Linked DNA regions of Homo sapiens: region 2 is linked to region 1. Evidence: fine-mapped QTL for protein levels in blood plasma. A gene starts in region 1. The other region holds a variant in brackets. All regions are shown on one strand. Distances are from middle to middle.

Region 1 (2,914 bases):
TTGGTGCATTTACAAACCTTGAGCTAGACACAGAGTGCCCATTGGTGCATTCACAATCCCTTAGCTAGACATAAAGGTTCTCCAAGTCCCCACCAGACTCAGGAGCCCAGCTGGCTTCACCCAGTGGATCCCACACCCAGGCGCAGGTGGAGCTGCCTGCCAGTCCCCGGCCCTGCGCCCGCACTCCTCAGCCCTTGGGCGGTCGATGGGACTGGGCGCCGTGGAGCAGGGAGCGGCGCTCCTCAGGGAGGCTCAGGCATGGCAGGCTGCAGGTCCCGAGCCCTGCCCTGCGGGGAGGCAGCTAAGGCCTGGCGAGAAATCGAGCACAGCAGCTCCTGGCCCAGGTGCTAAGCTCCCCCCAACTGCCCGTGGCCAGCGGGGACGGCCGGCCGCGCTGAGTGCCGGGCCCACCGAGCCCGCCGAGCCCACGCCCACCCGGAACTCGGGCTGGCCCGCAAGCGCCGTGCGCAGTCTCAGTTTCCGCCGGCGCCTCTAGTCTTGCTTCCCTCCAGTCCATTCTTCATGCTACAGGAAGAGTGAGTTTTCTGGAATACAAATCTAATCACAACCGTTCCCAGCTCAAAACCTAGCAGTACTCTAGTACTGGTGCCTCAGACTAAAATCCAAGCCCCTTGCTTCCTGAGGCAGAGATGAGTGTACGTGAATTTTTAAAAATAACCATACAGAAAAACAGATTCTTTGGGATGTGCAGTTCTGCGAATTTTTATTTTTATTTATTTTTTTGAGGTGGAGTCTTGCTCTGTCGCCCAGGCTGGAGTGCAGTGGCACGATCTCGGCTCACTGCAACCTCTGCTTCCCGGGTTCAAGTGATTCTCCTGCCTCAGTCTCCCAAGTAGCTGGGACTACAGGCGTGTGCCACCACCCACGCCTGGCTAATTTTGTATTTTTAGTAGCCACGAAGTTTCACTATGTTGGTCAGGCTGGTCTCGAACTCCTGACCTCAGGTGGTCCGCCCACCTCGGCCTCCCAAAGTGCTGGGATTACAGGAGTGAGCCACCGTGCCCGGCCTTCTGTGAATTTTAACACATGTATAGATTCTTGTGGCCACTGCCATCTATTAGTCCCCAAAACAACCTCATGCTATCCTTTCATAGTCGTACTCTCCCTCATCCCTACCCCTATCTTTTTAAGAAGGTCAAAGAAATGGAATGTGATCTTTTGAAAAACAAAAACACCCAAGCCCCTTAGGGCGTTTTTAATGCCCTTGCCTACCTCTCCTCCCTGTCCTCCAACAACTGCCCTCCCAAGCCCCACAATGCAACTCGCCGGAACTATGCTCAGTTCTTGGGGTGCTCCAAGCTGTCCTCCACTTAGCCAAGCTCCCCACCCGCTTCCGGGGGTGGGTTTCCACTGTGCACAACAGTACCTAGCGCTTCCCCCACTACAGCCCCCTTTCACGCTGTGGTAATTGCCAGGTTATCTGCCTCTCCCATTACAGTTCCTTCCTCACAGGGACCGCGTTTAAACCACGGCGGTATCCCTACCGCGCAGGATGGGCCGAGCCCCGCACGCCCCGAGGCAGCACCCCGCACGCAGTAGCCGGGCGTCGAGGCGTTCCCAGCCCACACCAGGCGCGGACCTACGAAGGCGGAGCGAGCATGCGCACTAGGAAGGGGCGGGGCGGGGCGCGCGCGATCCCCCGCCCCCTGCACGCGGTCCCAGGAGGGGCGGGCCTTGGCCGCTCGCTCTCCCCTCCCCCATGCCGCTGCGCTTGCGCGCTGGGGACAACCGTTGCTGGGTGTCCCAGGGCCTGAGGCAGGACGGTACTCCGCTGACACCTTCCCTTTCGGCCTTGAGGTTCCCAGCCTGGTGGCCCCAGGACGTTCCGGTCGCATGGCAGAGTGCTACGGACGACGCCTATGAAGCCCTTAGTCCTTCTAGTTGCGCTTTTGCTATGGCCTTCGTCTGTGCCGGCTTATCCGAGTGAGTGACGGGCCTGAGGAGGCAGCGGACCGGGGACACCCTGGGGGAACTTCCCGAGCTCCGCGACCTCGAAGCCTGGCCCTTCCTTCTCCCTGGTCCTACATGCCTCCCTCCCCCACTGTCCGGGGTCCTGGCCTCGACGCCGAGGGGTGTCCCTCTCCTCTCCTGGTCAGGGAACGCAGCAACTGAGGCGGCGCGGCCCAGATGAGACGGGAAGCGCCTGCGGGCCGTGGGCGCGGGTGGAACCCCCTCACCTCACCGGAGGCCTTCCTCTGCCCACCCGATCCTTCCCCAGCCATTGGGCGTGTGACCGTGCAGGGGTCGTGTGACAGCTGCTGGCCAGCTAGGAATGATTTTTACATTTTCTTCCTTTTTTTTTAATTATTATACTTTAAGTTCTAGGGTACATGTGCACAGCGTGCAGGTTTGTTACATATGTATCCATGTGCCATATTGGTGTGCTGCACCCATAACTTGTCATTTACATTAGGTATATCTCCTAATGCTATCCCTCCCCCCTCCCCCCACCCCACGGCAGGCCCTGGTGTGTGATGTTCTATTTTTGCATTTTCAAAGTAAATATGAAATGTACTCTTTCATGACTTGTGGAAAAGCATGACGCTCACATTTCATTGTTCGTGAATAAAGTTTTACTGGCACACCACCACGCTCATTCCTTTACGTATTGCCCATGGCTGCTTTCCCACGTTAGAACAACGGGGTTAAGTGGTTGCCACACAGTCTGGTCTGCAAAGACTGAAGTATTTACTCTCTGGCCCTGTACAGAAAAAAAGGTTGACCCGTACGGTAAAATTTGGAGAGCATGTGGATTGTGGGTCGCGGTCTGGGACACTCACCTGAGGATGCGCTCCCAGAGAGCATGCTTGCGCACACGGCATTCAAAGCCTTAGTTAAGCAGGATTATAACTTAAGACCTGCCAAGGAGCAATTTTTGTCCCTCCCCGAAAGC
Region 2 (2,914 bases), 24 kb before region 1:
TAAATTTTGGAGGGGACATATTCAAACCTCAGCACATACATACTCACAAATATGTGAATGCACTCAAACATCTATAACTATTCCTATTTTTATATCTGTATGTATATATATGATCTCCATCTGTCTATAAAATATATACCTAGGTATCTATATGCATCTACATATATATTGATGTCTCCATACATGTTTTTTTTTTTGAGACTGAGTCTCACTCTGTCGCCCAGGCTGGACTGCAGTGGCGTGATCTCAATAGCTCACTGCAACCTCCGCCACCTGGGTTCAAGCAATTCTCATGCCTCAGCCTCTCAAGTAGCTGGGACTACAAGTGCCCGCCACCAGGCCCAGCTAATTTTTGTATTTTCGGTAGAACAGGGTTTCACCATGTTGGCCAGGCTGGTCTTGAATTCCTGACCTCAAGTGATCCGCCTGCTTCGGCCTCCCAAAGTGCTGAGATTACAGGTGTGAGCCACCACACCCGGCCGGAATACGTACTTCTTTTAAACTAATTTTCCATATTTTGGATGTACCTTCGTTATCTATAACCACACTGATGGATCAAAAATGGTTAGCCTCTTGAGGCTCTCCTTGATTTGTATAACAACATTACAAACAAGGACTAAAGCCTCCTTTTGTCTAATTCTGACCCGGTTCACAGACCAAGAGCCCTTTGAAAAAAGAGGAAGCTGGATACCCTTGAGGAACAAATAACTAAAATGCCACAAGTATGTACTCAGGGTCCAACTCCAGTTCATTTCTAATGGAATAAACAATTAACCAGCTAACTGTGTGGTGAGAAAAGAGAAGTACCCAGATTTTGGGAAGTACCCAGATACCTTAATTCACAGCAACCCAGAAAGCCACTGTTGTCCCCAGAGGATGTGGGGTCTTATAGGGCAAACTTTAGTCTTAAAACACACATGTAGAACTTCAAAGACTTTTCCCTTACCAATGGAGTTATAGCTTCCCAAGTGCATCAACATATTTTTGCTTTGTTCTAGGTCAGTAGAAGACTTGAAAAAAAATGCTAGGCAGCACATACTGTTTATGACATTGTGTCACAGATGGGAAAGTAAAATCTGGGCATGTGAAAGGAATGTTAGCATCCATGGCTCAGGAGACCCCACTCCTCCACTTCCTTGATGCCTGTATTCCAGGTCTTTAGCAGTGAGCACTTTTTGCACAACAGCCCTGCCAATGAGAGAAGCTACAGCCTCTTACACACACACATACACACACACACTTAGAAAAAGCAGGCACAGACTTAGTAAAATATCCTCATGGCATTTCCTAGATTCTAAGAAGTATGGCTTTTCAGGTATTAGCATTTCTGAAATTTGATGTATTCATTTTTATTTAATCAGTGTGTTTCTTTAAAGTGGCAGTCCTTACTT[T/C]TGCAAAAACAATTTTGTTATTAAATCAGTGGACATTTCATCCAGGCTTCTGGGAAAGCCATGCTATTCACAGGTTCTGTGTTGGGAGTGGCCCAATTTCCAACATTCAGAGAGTTCTCCAGCCTCAGGTCAGCCACTCAAGGAGAAGCTGGAGCTGTCTTCCCGCTGTCCCCATCTCCCTCCACTCCCTGGGCCTGCTTGACTCCTTTAGACATAATTAGACTCTTCTTATATCTTTTCAACTCAGAATGGGCAAGGTTCATGTTTTCATGAACAGTAGGACCAAATTGCATTGTGTGATAGTTTAAGGTTAGGTGGTTAACTGTGATGCAAAAATACATAAAAATCTGAAAAAAGTAAGCATTTTGATAACTTGTTTTTATAATCAGCCTAATTTTTAATCAAGTCTACTATTTAATTTATAATATAACATTATTAGTCAATTTAGGGCAGTAAAATTTGTGTCATTTCTTTTTAGCCATAATTTACTAGAATTAACTTTCATTGGAATTTTTAAAAATCTAGAAAATACATACCTTTTCTAAATGTAGCACGAGTAGTAAATCAAATAATAACGATGAAAGTAATTTTGAAGACATGACAACCAAAAGAGTTTCTGCTAGATTGACTCAGAAGTATAATCCTTTACATACTGAGTTCAGTTGCACTGCTCTAATTAATTGAGAAGCACTAAAATTTGAATGTGTTATTTGCAGAGATATACTGGCTAATGTAAGCAATTCACCGTCAAACTATAGGCAACATGCATACGCAACTCATAAAGACACACATTCACAATGAAAAGAATTGTTTGAAAGAAGGAATATTGAATTAAAAAGTTAATGGAAGAAGATGTTCAATATTTCATATATGAAGAGTGAGTAGTACTTTTCAGGCTTCTTATCAAGTAGCACTTTGCATGACTAGGACAAAAAATTAAATTGTGGTGACATTAGCAAAAAACTTCATAAAAAATGTTTGCTTGGAAATGATGGGGGAATCTTGAGCAAAGAAGATACTGTGAAGACTGTTTTCCAATGAAACTATAGATTAATGTATTTTAAAACTATCTAATTATGTGGAAGACCAATTTATGGTACAAATAAAGCCAGCAAACTATTTTTTAATGAAACCTGATGCACAGGTAACGCTAACAAAGCAATTCTTTTAGTATATGTGTTATTTGAGCATGATGGTAATATGAAAGTAGAATTTTTTTTTCCAACTTCATTACCATAAACAGAACTCAGAACTGTATAAAATGATGATAGATTACACTGTCTATGTGGTTTGGAGATTAGGGGTAGAAGTATTTTTGATGCACAGATGTAATGACAGGTAAGCATTCTGGAGTAGTTAATCCAGAGAAAAGAGCTGGGCCAGAATATAAACCAACATGCTGTTCCTTCATTGAGAAAGTCTTGCTATCAAACAAACAAACAAAAAAACCAGCTGAACCAATAGTGTCTTAGCAGCATAGTTAAAATTGTGAGTTACATAAAGGATTATGTGTTAAATGTGAG

Alleles and levels. Alleles are on the strand shown, and positions count from the first base shown. The strength of an association depends on the size of the effect and on how common the allele is.
With allele C in place of T in region 2, the plasma level of the protein whose gene starts at base 1,752 in region 1 is higher (strong association).

What was found. PIP is the posterior inclusion probability: the model's chance that the variant is causal. The UK Biobank Pharma Proteomics Project read protein levels with antibody pairs (Olink). The fine-mapping took linkage between variants from a reference panel, not from the people measured, so its PIPs are less certain.
Region 2: its variant is fine-mapped to the plasma level of the SPESP1 protein (UK Biobank, PIP 0.97).

What each region holds. Positions count from the first base shown.
Region 1 is chr15:68,928,774-68,931,687 of GRCh38, forward strand. It overlaps SPESP1 (sperm equatorial segment protein 1), which reads left to right and starts at 1,752. Exons shown (of 2, transcript NM_145658.4): 1 at 1,752-1,944. The coding sequence starts at 1,881. It overlaps SPESP1-NOX5 (SPESP1-NOX5 readthrough), which reads left to right and starts at 1,752. Exons shown (of 17, transcript NR_033672.2): 1 at 1,752-1,944.
Region 2 is chr15:68,904,655-68,907,568 of GRCh38, forward strand. No RefSeq gene overlaps it. Among named protein-coding and RNA genes, the nearest start is that of SPESP1, 24 kb to the right of the region's middle. The variant T/C (reference allele first, on the strand shown) is at 1,392.